Linked DNA regions of Homo sapiens. The protein of the gene in region 2 purifies or fractionates together with the protein of the main gene of each other region. This does not show direct contact. Each region holds a gene or a part of one and is shown on either strand. Other genes may lie near its edges.

Evidence for each region.
Region 1: the proteins of BBS4 (region 2) and BBS7 purify together in Homo sapiens (co-immunoprecipitation; 8 studies listed by BioGRID and IntAct, with this or other methods). This does not show direct contact.

The regions. Positions count from the first base shown.
Region 1 is NC_000004.12:121,867,240-121,875,874, forward strand, and holds the start of BBS7 (BBSome complex member BBS7), read right to left. Parts: upstream 3,236-8,635; 5' UTR 3,075-3,235; coding exon 3,039-3,074; intron 808-3,038; coding exon 742-807; intron 1-741.
Region 2 is NC_000015.10:72,688,835-72,696,589, forward strand, and holds part of BBS4 (BBSome complex member BBS4), read left to right. Parts: intron 1-6,342; coding exon 6,343-6,394; intron 6,395-7,755.

The DNA of each region.
Region 1 (8,635 bases), on a different chromosome or scaffold from region 2:
AAACACTACTAATTTCAGTATATTAATTTTGTATCCTGCAACTTTACTGAATTCATTTGTCAGTTCTAAGAGTTTTTTGGTAGAGTCTTTAGGTTTTTCTATATATAGGATCATGTCATCGGCAAACAGAGATAATTTGACTCTCCTTTCCAATCTGGATGCACTTTATTTCTTTTTCTTGTATAATTGCTCTGGCTAGGACTTCTAGTACTATGTGTAATTGTTGATTCATCTTGCTAAAATGTTTATATATCAGGATAAAGTATTTTTTTGCAGCTATTAAAATATTTGGCTAGTCTACTAAGAAACTATAATTGTTTTGTGGAAATCATAGGATCAACATTTCTTTAAACATAATCAATATTGTTAGTTAAGTACAGTTTAACATCAAAATATTTAATGACTTTAAAATATGAGAAAGTTTAAAGAGAACATTTTCTTGATACCTTATTCTGCTTTATATTTCTTTTTTCATATACACATCTGACACACAGAAAAAATGGAGTATGGTTTTTAAGTTTGCCTACACTGTTTACTAATGGTATATAATAATTTTAATGTCCAAGAAAATTATTGTCTATAAATGTCCCTTGGTATTCCAGTTTCTGTTCAAATTAAAAAATTCATTTCCATTTTAACATTAGCATTTTTAAGAGAATAACTTAATAATAAAGAAGGAAATAGGAGCCTCTCCTCTGTCACTGCTAGGGAATAGTGGAGAAATCAGAATCTATACAGTACCTTTTGTGTAGCTCTGTGTCTTGAGGCAGGAATTAGCTTCATAGTCTTCTGAGATGTTACTCCCACCTAAAGAAAAACACCAGATGCCTAGTGAATTTAATTTGAAGTTATTACAGAGATTAAAATAAGTTATAGTGAACCTTTTTGTTAAACTGAAATTAGTGATATAACTATTATCAGTAATTAATTTATTTTCTAATGAGATATGTCATATTAGTCAGAATACATATAGGAAACAACCAAAATAGTAAAATTTATCCTATAAAGTTGTCAAGCCAAAAATAGTTGTGTAAGATGACTGGCAAGATGCTTTACTAAAAAATATCTCTAGAAGCCTTCTTTTCCAACTGCATACAGTTGTTCAGCAAAGTGATTCAAGAACTTTGAAAATAGATTATAGTTATTAAAAATGCAACGGAAGACCACATGCAGTGGCTCATGCCTGTAATCTCAGCACTTTGGGAGGCTGAAGTGGGAGGATCACTTGAGCCCAGGTGTTCAACACCATCTAGGCAACACAGGGAGACTCTGTCTCTACAAAAAATAAAAAATTAGCTAGGCATGGTGGTGCATGCCTGCAGGCCCAACTACTTGGAAGGCTGAGGCAGGAGGATAACTTGAGTCCAGGAATTTGAGGCTGTGGTGAGTCATGATCATGCCACTGTACTCCAGACTGGCTGCGTGACAGAACAAGACCCTGTTTCAAAAAAAAAAAAAAAAAAAAAAAAAAAAAAAAGAAGATTTATGCTAAAATACCAAATATGATAATGGCCATAACATCCAATCTAACAGGTGAAGATTATTTTACAAAAAAATACAGAGGATGAAAGCAGCAGGGAACTGTCACTGCTGGTGTATAGTTAGGAGAAGAGGATGGGACCAATGGGAGAGGAATTGGTGAAAACAACACATCATGATAAAACGTTCATATAGTATAAATGACTTTATTCTGCATTCCAGAAAATTGTATTAAAGTCATCTGCTTAGATTTGTATTTCTGAAACATCAATCTAGCAAGTGATGTGAAGGATGGCTTGGAGGGAGATGAAGCTGGAGTTCAGGAGCCCAATTTGGAGGTTATTTCAATTATTCAAGCAAGAGAAGATGAGAACCCAAATGAGGGTAATAGAGATGGAAGATATGGGACAGATTCAAGAGATATTTGGGAGTTAAAAGCAGTAAGATGTGGTGACCAGTTGGATATGGAAGTACATAGCATAAACCCCTAGAAAATTGACTGGGCAAACATTTGTACCATTAACTAAAATGAGGTGGCCTAAAAATATGATGAGGAATTGGGGTAGAGAGAATTTTAGGTCTGAAAGAAATTCTGAAAGGCAGTGTAGTGTAACAAAAATACACCAGTTCTGGAGTCCGAGACTTTGATTCAAATAGCCACTCCCTAATTTTTAGCTATTAAGCAAATTACTTGCCTTCTCTAACCCCTTAGATCCTCATTTATAATATTGTCTACTTTGCAAATTCTTATGAGGATTAAATATGTTGGTAGGTATGCTAAATTCTTAGAATAAGCTAGATGCACATTAAACTGTTGTCATTGCTTTTTTTCCCCCTTTCGAGACAGTCTCGCTCTGTCGCCCCAGCTGGAGTGCAGTGGCATGATGTCAGCTCACTGCAGCCTCCGCCTCCCGAGTTCAAGCGATTCTCCTGCCTTAACCTCCCGAGTACCTGGGATTACAGGCGCCCGCCACCACACCGGGCTAATTTTTGTACTTTTTGTAGAGAAGAGGTTTAACCATGTAGGCTAGGCTGGTCTCGAACTGCTGACCTTAGGTGATCCGCCCGCCTCGGCCTCCCAAAGTGCTGGGATAACAGGCGTGAGCCACTGCCCCCGGCCCGGTTTTCATTGCTTTTACCATGATCTGCCTGGTGCGGTACAGCTCACAGTAAGAAACAAGTGCCTGGTGCTCCGCAAAAGGGTCCGGGTAGAGATGGAGATTGAGGATTAGAGGCCCTCAGGCAGCCACGGCTAGGGAGGAGGAGAAGGGCCCTGGGGGGAATCCGGGATGAGACAGTGTCACATTTTCAGAGCATCCTCAGGACCCGGCAGAAGCCAGTACCGTGGGGGCTTGTGCCGCTTTTCCCCGGTCCCCTCGGACCGTCACAGACGAAAGGGAGCTGCCCAAAGGCGGGGTGCTGAGAGGTCGGCACCCAGCCCGGCTCCTTCGCCTCCGCACCAGCTCCTGGCGACCGAGACTTTCGTCAGTGGAAGGAAGGAATCCTCTCCGGGTGCTGGGCTTGCCCAGCGCGGCGCCCGCCCTATCCCTTGGGTTTACCTGCAGATAATCCATTCGGTTTAAAATCAGATCCATGATGACTACGCGGAGGGGCTAAGCAGCGCCGGACAAGAACAGGAGGGACAGAGGCTTCGGGCCCGCAGGCCTCCGACCCAGTCAGAAGGCTGCCCGCGCCCCTCAAAAGCCAGCCCCAGCTACCGCGCCTAGGTCCTGGGCTGCACAGGCGGGGCGACAGGGCAGTGGCGTCCTGCGTGACGTCAGTACGCTGCTGCGAGGGGCTCCTGGAAGAAGATGAAGGCCCGCCCCTTTCCCGAAGCACCGCCCACTGACAGCGTGTTCCAATCAGAGGCGGAGAGGAACAAAAGAGGCGAGGTCCGGGAGACCCATACAGGGCGGTTTCCACAGAGACCCCAGACGCAGTCTTGGCTCCACCCTCACCGCGGCCCAGGGCTAATACTGGACTTCTTTCCTTATCGCTGTAGAAAAAACTAGATAAGCCTGCTAGATTCTGACCGATTTCACTCTGACATTGGAAAGGGTCCTACAAAGAATTAGGTTCCACCGTTATAGGTGCTAGCTTACAGCAGCGGTTCTTAGACTTTTGGCCTTAGGACTTATTTACAAGACTCTTAAAAACCGTTGAGGAGCACAAAGACCATTTGCTTTTTGTGGGTTTTCTCTCATTTTTAATGTTTTTTTTATTTCAATAGTTTTGGGTGTACAGGCGGGTTTTGGTTACATGGATGAGCTCTTGAGTGGCGAATTCCGAGATTTTAGTGTACCCGTCACCCACCAGTGTACACTGTACCCAATATGTAGTATTTTATCCCTCACCCCGCTCCCAATCTCCTCCCTACCTGGAGTTCCCAGAATCCATTATATCGCTCTGTATGTCTTTGCATCCTCATAACTGAACATGCAGTATTTGGTTTTCTATTCCTAAGTTACTTCACTTAGAATAATGGCCTCCAGTTCCATCCAAGTTGCTGCCAAAAGATATTATTTCGTTCCTTTTTATGGCTGAGTAGTATTCAATGGTGTATATATACTACATTTTCTTTATCCACTCGTTAGTCAATGGGCACTTAGGTTGGCCCCATATCTTTGCAATTGCGACTTATGCTGCTATAAACATGCGTGTATATGTGTCTTTTTCCTTTGGGTAGATACCCAGTAGTGGGATTGCTGGATTGAATGGTAGCTCCACCTTTATTTATTTATTTAAGGAAACTTTATACTGTTTTCCATAGTGGTGGTATTAATTTACATCCCCCAAGCAGTGCAAAAGTGTTCCCTTTTCACCATATCGACACCAACGTATATTTTCTAAATTTTATTTTTTATGTTTATTTTTTTTTTTTTGAGACAGAGTCTTGCTCTTGTCCCCCAGTCTGGAGTGCAATGGCACTATCTCGGCTCACTGCAACCTCCGGCTCCCGGGTTCAAGTGATTCTCCTGCCTCAGCCTCCCGAGTAGCTGGGATTACAGGTGCCCGCCACCACGCCTGGCTGATTTTTGTATTTTTAGTAGAAACAGGGTTTTGCCATGTTGGCCAGGCTGGTCTCGAACTCCTGACCTCGTGATCCGCCTGCCTCATGGCCATTATTGCAGGAGTAAGGTGGTATCTCACTGTGGTTTTAATTTGCATTTCCCTGGTGATTTAGTGATGTTGAGCATCTTTTCATGTTTGTTGGCTATTTGTATATCTTCTTTTGAAAAATGTCCTTTGCCCACTTTTTGATGGGATTGTTTTTTTCTAGCTGATTTGTTTGAGTTCCTTGTAGATTCTAGGTACAAGTCCTTTATCAGATGCACAGTTTGAAAATATTTTCTTTTACTCTATGGGCTGTTTACTGATTATTTCTTTTGCTGTGCAGAAGCTTTTTAGTTTATTTAGGTCCCATTTATTTATTTTTGTTTTTGTTGCATTTGGCTAATGTCCAAAAGAGTTTTTCCAATGTTATCTTCTAAAATTTTTGTGGTTTCAGGTCTTAGATTTAAGTCTTTGATTCATCTTGAGTTGATTTTTGTATAAGGTGAGAGATGGGAATCCAGTTTCATTCTTCTACCTGTGGCTAAACTAGTTTTCCCAGCACCATTTATTGAATAGGGCGCCCTTTTCCCAATTTATGTTTTTGTATGCTTTGTTGAAGATCAGTTGACTGTAAGTACTTGGCTTTATTTCTGGGTTCTCTATTCTGTTCCATTGGTCTATGTGTCTTTATTTATTTATTTATTTATTTTACCTGTACCATGCTGTTTTGGTAACTTGCCTTGCAGTATAATTTGAAGTGTGGTAACGTGATGCCTCCAGATTTGTTCTTTTTGCTTATTATTGCTTTGGCTATTCAGGCTGTCTTTTGGTTCCATATGAATTTTAGAATTTTTTTTTTAGTTCTGTGAAAAGTAGTAATGATATTTTGATGGGAATTGCACTGAATCTGTAGATTGCTTTGGAAAGTATAAAGACCATTTGTTTATATGAGTTACCTATTGATTTTTACCATATTAGACATTAGAACTGAAAACAATTAGTGTTTTTTAAAAACCTATGACAAATATCTTAATGAAAAAAATATTTTCCAAAATAAAAAAATAAAATAACTGGTACTGTGCGCAAATCTATTTTCTGTCCATTTTAATAGTAGACAGGAGGAGCTTCAAATCTGCTACTGCATTCAATCTATTGTTATATGTTGTTTTTGTTCATGTATATGAAGAAAATTTGGTCCAAACTCAACAAGTAGTAGTTTTTTGAAAGGTTAGTTGCAATGTGAAATGTGACTTTGTTACACAACATCAAAAAATTCCATCTGTTAGTATCACCATGGATCTCATCAGTAAAGTCCCGAGTATGGGAGATCTGTCAAACTTAGATGGTGAATACATATTTTCCAAAATTCAAATTTGTGCTTGAAAGTTTGAAATTTACACATTGGCAAGAAATGTCGATTGTTTTCCTTGAACTGATAGGTTCCCTTCTTGAATTCACAAGAAAGTAAATGCCAGATATCTAAGTCTGAATAATCATAATTTGTGAGTAATTCCTTCAAATAAAAAGTGTCCCATGAAAAAAGCAGGAAGTTCAGCTAGCAGCTCAATCCCACAAGTGCTTTTCCTTGAGACAACTAATGTATTTCAGTATTCAGTAGAAGGATTTTATACATACTTCTTATGTCCTCACATAGAACATTTAAAAAGACATATTCAAGAGTTAAGATGTAATAAATGAGGGCTGAATCAGAAGAAAGAAAAAAGAAAAAAAGATAATATTAACAATGTTGCTGCTTCGTTAAGAACATTTTTATATGAAATGGTTTTTGTTTCCTATCAGTGCATGTTATATAGAATATGGTGTCTACTAGTACAGTTTGGAGCCACTATTTTGATTTATGCTTAAGCACTAGCAGTATTAACCACCATTGTTTCGGTACCATCAGTGCAAATGTCAGCAGAGTGAAATGGCAAATCACAACTTAGTGTTATGAAAATAGTTTCAAAATTGCAGACAGCTGTGAAAAGGCCTCAGGAACCACCCCTGCCCCTCGGGGCCCCACAGACTACTACTGACCCATAGTGACCCAGGATTTAAGAGCTGACATTCTTTGACTCACTTTCATCGGTCCTTCCTTAATGTGCATAGAGCTCTGCCTGGGGAAATACAGATAAGTTCAGATACAGCTACTTTCCTGATTCTTGTGGTTTTTCTTTTTCTTTCTTTCTTTTTTTTTTTTTTTGTAGAGATGGAGTTTTGCCATGTTGCCCAGGCTGGTATTGAACTCCTGGGCTCGAGTGGTCCGCCCACCTCAGCCTCCCAAAGTTCTGGGATTACAGACATGAGCCACTGTGGTTTTCCAGGAAAGAGTTCACAAATAATTGTGAAACAAAAAGAATTAAATCCCTGAGAAGAGGTGCTTCTTAAGAAGAGAAGTTATTTACTGCAGCAATATCTGAAAAAGTTTTCCCTGTGTTCCAGACAATTATATCTCTGAGGCTAAAATAATCCCACATTAAAATAGACAATACATGTAGATGGGTTAGCTGTTCAGCAATTTGGGGGAAATATATATCAATTTAGATTCAAGAAAAAAATACAAATAAATTTTAGAAGTCAACTGAAAAATAAAGCCATAGAAAAGACAGAAGAAAATAGAATTGTATAGCATTTTACAGAATTTTGGAGGTTGGAGGATATAGTATTAGTTTGCTAGGGCTGCCATAGCAAAGTAGTACACACTGGGAGGCTTTTCAACAACAGAAATTTATTTTCTCACAGTCTTGGAGTCTAGAAGTCATAGATCAAGGTGTCAGCAGGGAATAAAACCGATCTTCAGAGGCCTCTCTTCTTGGCTTATAGATCGTCATCTTCTCCGTGTCTTCACGTGGTCCTCCCTCTATGTCTGTCTGTGTCTCATCTTGTCTTTTTATAAGCACACCAGTCATATTATCTCATTTTAAATTAATTACCTCTTTAAAGACCCTATCTCCAACTATAGTTATAGTCTGAGATACTGAAGGCGAGGACTTTAACATGAGTTTTGAGGGGACACAATTCAGCCCATAACAGAAGGAAACTGATCTCAAAAGGAATAGAAGAAACCACAAAGGAAAAAAGCAGATATGGTGTTACATGCCTGTAGTCTCAGCTATTTGAAGGCTGAGGCTCAAGATTGCTTGAGCCCAACAATCCAGCCTGGGCAAAATAGCAAGGCCCCATCTCTAAAAAACAAACAAAAAACTAACTTAAAAAAAATGAAAAGTAAAGATAAACATTTCAATATGTCACAACAATGTTTAAATGAAAACAAAAATATAGGAGAAAAGAGTTAATATCTTAAAAAATAGTTCATACAAATTAATAATGAAGAAATACTATGGTTCTAATAAATAGGTAAAAAAAAAAACACCAAAGACAGACAATGCTGGCAGTGCTTACTTTCCATTTAGCAAGTGATGTCCACTGTTCAATTAATTGTGTAGAAGGAAAGTAAAAGTTTATTTTGAAGCTCAAATTTATTTTAAAACAGTGAAATGAGGCTATGATATAGCATCAAAACAATACAAAAAGTTTGCATAATATGATATTTGGAATTCTTTGATTTTGCATCTAAAAATGCAATTTATTATTTTTAAAGTACATACTATGTTTTGTTTCTAAATGATTAGTAAAGATTTCAACCTACTAATTTTAAGTATTCCTCAAATAATTAATTAGCAGGGTAAGGAATTTTTATTCACAATAAAGAAAATGTCAAGTTAAATTACCACTGTGTGTCCTCTTTTTAAAGATGTTTTAGGGTATCAGAGACATCTTGGTGGTCTTTATAAAACTCAACAGAAGATGGCTGCCTCTCAGATGTGACAAAGACCACTTTAGAGACAAATTTGCAGAATTACCATGCACCTCAGTAATTTATAACCTTATGTTATGGTGCTAAAGCAACCATTATGAGTATAAGTTAAACAACTTATGGCTAAAAATAAAAGCAATTTAAACTGCATTAAAGTTAAAACCATCAACACGCTAGTGGTGGTCAGCTGAGTGACTGAGTCATGAGTAAAAACATTAGTTTCCCCTAACACATGGTATAAATTTAGAAATTCTCAAACTCTTTTTTAAACTGAACAAAGTTATA
Region 2 (7,755 bases):
GAAGCAAATTAAATGCCCATTAATAGGGTAATTGATGACTTCAGATATTTCCATACTGTGGAATATTATGCAGTCATTAAAAAGAATGTTACAACTAATTGCTTTTCCTCTCAGAAGCCCCTCTCTCTCACTAGAGAAAGCTGTTCTCCTTTCTTTCTTCTGCCTATTAAACCTCCATTCCTAAACTCAGAAAGAAAAAAAAAAAAAGAGAATGTTACGACTAATTGACTTGGAGGGACTTCCATGGTGTACATTTAAATAAAAGGTAGATGTGAAGTGGGGTATATTATGTGATCTTAATTTCATAACACAAAGGAAAACATATAGATCCGTAGATAAGGATATATGGATATGGAGGAGAGAAAAGGAAAAGACTCAAAACTCACAGAATTTTTGAAGAAATGTATAGCTAAAAATCTAAGAAGGCTACAGTCAAGGCCTTGAGGCCAGAAGACACCCCATCAAAACTGAGTAAAACTAGCCCAGTGTGGGACGCAGAAATTCTAGTATGCTACCAAAATTACTTACGGATTGCTACCAGTTCCTTAGAAGGAAAACTGAGGACTAATATTTGTATTTTCAGTATAGTTTAGAATTCTTAAAAAATGAGCAAACAGGCTGTACTTGGTGGCTCATGCCTGTAATGCCAGGACTTGTGGAAACTGAGGTGAGAGGATAACTTGAGTCCAGAGGTTTGAGACCAGTCTGGGCAACATGTTGGAGCCCCATTTCTACAAAAAACACAAAAATTAGCCAGACGTGGTGGCACGCGCCTGTCTTCCCAGCTACTGGGGAGGATCATCTGAGCCTGGGGGAAGTTGAGGCTCCAGTGAGCCATGATCATGCCACTGGACTCCAGCAGGGGCAGAGTGAGACTTTGTCTGAAAAAAACAAAAAATGAATGAGCAACTAACTCTGGCTTTCATGATTTGTGCTTATAAATCTTTTTATTTATTTATTTATTTATTTATTTATTTATTTATTTATTTATTTTGAGACGGAGTCTTGCTCTGTCGCCCAGGCTGGAGCGCAGTGGCGCGATCTCGGCTCACTGCAACCTCCGCCTCCCGGGTTCACGCCATTCTCCAGCCTGAGCCTCCGGAGTAGCTGGGACTACAGGCGCCTGCCACCACGCCCAGCTAATTTTTTGTATTTTTAGTAGAGACGGGGTTTCACCGTGTTAGCCAGGATGGTTTCAATCTCCTGACCTTGTGATCCGCCCGACTCAGCCTCCCAAAGTGCTGGGATTACAGGCGAGCCACTGTACCCAGCCTATAAATTTTTTTTATAATGCCCTGATTCCCATTATTTGATGTATTTGGATAAATATGTCATCCTGTAAATTGAAGGATTAAACTGATAAGAGCAGAAAACAGAAATTAGTACACTAGTTGATCTGGCTCAGATATAGTGCCTATGTATCAGGTGCTCCATGAATATTTGTTGGATGAATAAATGATCATAAAACTATATAAAAATGAAGAAATAACAGAATAAAATAATTTGTTCTATATAAATCCTATGAATGAGATTGAGTGGGCTAATAGAATCCTTTCCATCTCAAAATGTTCTGGAAAGTCTTGAGTAAAAGACTCATCAAAAAAATAATTCTGCTTTGTGCAGAAAGAAGGGTTGCTGACCTTTGAAGGTGCTTTTTGAGTCTTTAACATTCTTTAGTAGTATATTCCCCAAAGTTAAGAAATTCTAGTTAGATTTTAAAAAATTGAGTTAACATTTAAAAAACAGTTTTGTTGAGGTATAATACACGTACCATAAAATTTACTCAATTTAAGTACAAAGTTTGATCAGTTTTAGTAAATTTATATAGTTGCACAGCTGTCATCAGAGGCTGCTTTTAAAACATGTCCATCACTCCAGAAGGGTTCCTGTGTCAATGGAATTGCTGGGTTATATTGTTTAAGTATTTGTTTAAAAAAACAGAAACAAATCTGCCTAACTTCTGCAGGCTATATACGAGTTAACATTTCCATGAGCAATGCATGAGGGTTGTGATTTTTCCACATCCCTGTCAACACTTGGTTTGTCAGTTTGTTTTTATTTAGCTGTTGTAGTGGATGGGTAGTGATGGTGTATGGTGGTTTTAATTTGTATTTCCTTCATGAATAATGATATTGAAGATTTTTTATATGTTTATTTTCCACCCGTATCTCTTTGGTGAAATGTCTTTATAAATTTTTGTGAATTTTTAAATCAAGATCATTAACCAAATGAGCCCCTCATTTGGGCTCAAGTGATCCTTCCACCTCAACCTCCCGAGTAGCTGGGACCACAGGTGCAGGCCACGCTTGGCTAATTTTTGTATATTTTGTAGAGGCGGGGTTTTGCCATGTTGCCCAGGCTGGTCTTAAACTCCTGAACTCAAGCAATTGGCCTGCCTCACATAAGTATTCTCTTTTATTTTGAGGATTAATTTTTGTTGTTGTGAAATATATCCTACCTGTAAAAGAGTGCTTAAAATGTCGTATGTGTGCTTTAAAGGATAATATAATGGAAACTTGTGTTCCTACTGCCCAGGTTAGGAAATGGGTTATTAATAACTTTGAAACCTCCTAAATGCCTCTCTCCTACTGCATTTTCCTTCCTCCACATCAGATGTAGTGTTTCTTCAATTTTATATTAATATTTTGTACTTTTTATAGTTTTACCATATATGTTTATATATATCCTTAATATATTAGTTTTTAAAATTTGTTATTAACCTTCAGTTTATTCATTATTTCAACACTGTATAGTATCTTATTGTAGTAAAGTATGTCAATTAACTTATCCATTCCACTAGATGGAGATCGGGATTATTTCTGGTTTTTAGTTATTAAAAACAATGCTGCTGCTGGGTGCAGTGGCTTACGCCTGTAATCCTAGCACTTTGGGAGGCCGAGGCTGCGGATCATGAGGTCAAGAGATCGAGATCATCCTGGCCAACATGGTGCAACTCCGTCTCTACTAAAAATACAAAAATTAGCAGGATGCGGTGCTGCGCGCCTGTAGTCCCTGCTACTCGGGAGGCTGAGGCGGGAGAATCACTTGAACCCAGGAGGCGGAGGTTGCAGTGAGCCGAGATTGTGCCACTGCACTTCAGCTTGGCAGAGCGAGACTTCGTCTCAAAAAAAAAAAAAAAAAAAGCTGCTATAAATATGGCCAAGACTAAGGAAAGGTAAGTGAGGTGCTTAGGGTTCACATTTTATGGAGTAAGAGTAAGTACCTTCTTAAGGTTTATACCCTAGGTTCTTCACATGCCTCACTTTAGTCCTAGCCCTGAGCATTATTATGTAGGTCTTCTGATGCAATATCTAAGAGTTTCTCTAAGGTATACCTAGAAATAGATTGCTAGGTAATGGAGTAACTTTATTACTTACAGGAAACTATATGGTGGTTGTAACAATTTATGCTTCTGCCACCAGTCATGGTGGATATGAAATTATGTCTTAATGTGATAATTTACATTGCAATTTTTTTTTTTTTTTTTTTTTTTTTTTTTGAGACAGAGTCTTGCTCTGTCACCCAGGCTGGAGTGCAGTGGCGTGATCTTGGCTCACTGCAACCTCTGCCTCCTGGGCTCAAGTGATCCTTCCACCTCAGCCTCCCGAGTAGCTGAGACCACAGGCGCAGGCCACACTTGGCTAATTTTTGTATATTCTGTAGAGGCGGGGTTTCGTCATGTTACCCAGGCTGGTCTTAAACTCCTGAACTCAAGCAATCGGCCTGCCTCAGCCTACCGAAGTGCTGGGATTAGAGGTGTGAGCCACCACACCTGGCTGTTTGTTTGTTTTGAGCCTGTTCCTCAGGCTGGAGTGCAGTGGTCCAATCATGGCTTGCTGCAACTCCGCTTCCTGGGCTTAAGAGATCCTCCCACCTCAGCCTTCTGAGTAGCTAGGACTAAGGGCACCTGCCACTATGCCTGGCTAATTTCTAAAGTTTTTTTTATAGAGGCAGAGTCTCGCTGTTTTGCCCAAGCTGTTCTCAAATTTCTAGGCTCGTGTGATCCTCCTGCCTCAGCCTCCCAAAGTGCTGGGATTATAGGTGTGAGCCACCACACCTGGCTGATCTATCTGTCTTAAACTGGAGAATTGCATTTTTTTCTACCTCCTTTCTTTTTTTTAAAAAAACTGAATTTCCATCTGTTACCCCTCCCTTTCTGCTCCTCTTATTTCATGCCTTGGAAGTTATACTTTGCCTTCCTTTAATGAGTACCAAAGAAATTAAAAAATACATGTTTACTGTAAGTCCAGGCCTAAATGTTGCTACTACAGGGACCATCAAATGCTTTACTACCATCTATTGCCATCTGCAAATGTATGCCATTGTTGTTTAGTTTTGTAGTTCTTAATGTATTTTAATTAAACACCACAAATTATGCTTTTTGTTTGTTTTATTCAGTCAGTAGATGCTTAGAATACTTGCTTATTTTACCAATTCCTTTGCTTATTCCACTCCTTTGTTCTGGGATTATTTTTCTTTTTCCTAATATATTTTCATTAAAAGTTTATTTGGTGAGAATCTAAAAACTCTCAAATTCTGAAAGTTTTAAAAATTTGCCTTTGTTGTTGAAAATTAGTTTTGATGGGTGAGAGAATCTAGATCAGGTGTTAGCAAACCTTTTTTTGTAAAGGGCCAGATAGTAAATATTGTGGGCTTTGTGGGCCATAGAGTCTCTCTGACAACTACTCAGCAATGCTGTTGTAGGACAAAAGCAACCATAGACATTATGTAAACATGAGTGTGGGTATGTTCTCACAAATTTTGTTTATAGACACTGAAATTTGACTCAATTTTCATGTGTTAAAAATTATTATTTTTTGAATTTTTTTAACCATATAAAAATGTAAAAATCATTCGTAGCTTGTAGACCAAATAAACAGGATGGATTTGACCTGTGGGCCATAGTTTGCTGACCTCTGGTCTAAATTAACATTCATTTTACTTAGTACCTGACACTGGAGTAATTATTCTTATGATGTCTTATTGTGATATTGTCTTCCATTTTTAATTGTTGAAGAGCCAGCTGTCAGTCTTTTTTGTTTTTCTTTTTCTTCTTCTTTTTTTTTTGAAATGGAGTTTTGCTCTTATCGCCCAAGCTGGAGTGCAGTGGTGTGATCTTGGCCCACTGCAACCTCTGCCTTCTGGGTTCAAGCGATTTTCCTGCCTCAGCCTCCCAAGTAGCTGGGATTACAGGTGCCTGCCACCACACCCAGCTAATTTTTGTATTTTTAGTAGAGATGGGGCTTCACCATGTTGGCCAGGCTGGTGTTGAACTCCTAACCTCAGGTGATCCACCTGCCTTGGCCTCCCAAAGTGCTGCAATTACAGGCATGAGGCACGGCGTCTGGCCTTTCTTTCCTTTTTTTTTTTTTTTGAGACGTAGTCTTGCTCTGTTGCCCAGGCCGGGGGGCGATGGTACGATCTTGGCTCATTGCAACCTCTGCTTCCCAAGTTCAAGCCATTCTCCTGCCTCAGCCTCCCAAGTAGCTGGGACTATAGGCACGTGCCACCATGCCGAGCTAATTTTTGTATATTTAGTAGAGACGGGGTTTCACCATGTTGTCCAGGCTGGTCTTGAACTCCTGACCTCAAGTGATCCTCTCGCCTTGGCCTCTCAAATAACTGTCCTTTCTTTGTTGGTAATCTGGTGATATGTTTTCTTGTTTGGCTGCTTTTAAGAGCTGCTTCTTGTCTCTGGTGCAGTTCGCTATGATGTATCTAAGTATGTATTTATTTTCATTTAACCTGGTCAGGATTTGTTGAGTATCCAGAAACTAAGGATTGGTGTTTCTCATTACATCTGGAAAAATTTGAGCCATTATTTTTGCTTATATTGTGGTATGTCATAGGAAGTTGAGAAAAGAAAAATTCATTTGATGGTTTTCTATGAGGTTATAGTGGAAAATAACTATCTCCCTTTTAGAATTGAGTGCTAGACAGTTTCTGTGTAGATGATCTCATAAGCTTCCTTTTATCAAACAGCGATCACTTTTTTGGTTTGGCTGCTGAGAAGTATGGCATCAAGTATAATACTCATATGAGGTGTTTAAGAACTGAGTATATTTCTTATGCACATTTTACTATATACTATAATTATACATTAAAAATGCACATTGTAAATATTATAAATATGTGTTATACATTGTTAATAGTTTGGATAGCAAAAGTATGACTTGACATTTGTTTTTTAAACCATATTTAAAGTAACTCTATCACAATATGGATTTAATGGATTAATTGCATAATTGGTGAGCTACTGATTATTCTTGTTATTTGGATGCTTCTTTAAGTTAGCAAGTTTATATTGTGGTGCTTCAATATAGACTACTTATTTCATTTCAGAGAACTCAATTTCCTGTATCTACTGAGTCTCAAAAACCCCGGCAGAAAAAAGGTCTGTATGCAGTTTCATGGTATGTGTATGTTTGCACAGACAGATTTCTCTTTTATTTATTTATTTATTTTTTTTTTTGGAGGCAGAGTCTCACTGTCACCCAGGCTGGAGTGCAGTAGCACAATCTTGGCTCACTGCAACCTTTGCCTCTGGGGCTCAAGCAATTCTCCTGCCTCAGCCTCCCGAGTAGCTGGGATTACAGGTGCACGCCACCACACCTGGCTAACTTTTGTGTTTTAGTAGAGATGAGGTTTCACTGTGTTTGCCAGGCTGGTCTCGAACTCCTGACCTCAGGTGATCTGCCCACCTTGGCCTCCCAAAGTGTTGGGATTACAGGCGTGAGCCGCCACGCCTGGCCAGATTTCTCTCTCTTGTTGATTCTTTTATCTATTCTATATTATTTCAAAATGAGTGTTGGGAAAAGAAGTAATAGTCTAAATGTTCTGTCACATCTAGCTTTTATTTAATAGAGTTATTAGATATTAGGAGGTTGGTTTGACCTGGAAATTATTTAAATGGGGTTTGATTATTATGTAAGTGTGTACTAATTTTCTGCTTCTGGAAAAACCACTTTGTGAAGTTCCAGGTATCTTTTTGCTTTGTTGGTTTCTAGTTTAATTCTATTGTGGGTAGAGAACATTCTTTATATGGTTTGTTTTATGGCCCACAATGTGGCCTGTGTTGGTGCATGTCCCATGTACACTTGGAAATAATGTGTATTCTGCTCTTGTAGGATGTAGCATTCTGTAAATGTCAATTAGGTCAAGTTGGTTGATAGTGTTCTGTATATACTTACAATTACAGATATTCATATTCTTACTGATGTAGTTACTGATTGGAAGGGTGATAGAAGAGTGTTGAAGTGTGCAAATGTAATTGTGGATTTGTTTCTACTTTCAGTTCTATCAATTTTTGATTTGTGTATTTTGAAGATCTGTTGTTGGATGCATATACATTTAGGATTGTCTGATTTCTTGGTAAATTGACCCGTTTGTCTTTATATAATATTCCTCTTCAATTTCTGATAATATTCCTTGTTTGAAGTCTACTTTGCCTGATAATATTTTAGTTTTAGTTATTTATTTAGCTATTTTAGTTTTGCTTTGGCCAGTCTTTGAATGGTATCAACATATAATTTTCGTAGAGTAAAATTCCCTTTTTTTAGTACAAATTCTGAGTTTCGACAAATGAAACTAGCCATGTAACCACTAGTAGCACCATAATCAAGTTATAAAAGTTTAATTACTCCCCCAAAAGTCACCTTTACTTTGTAGTAAACCACTTCTTCCATTCCCAATTGCGGGCAGCCATTAATCTGTTTCTTTCTTCCTAGTTTTGCCTTTCTTGGAATGCCAAATAAA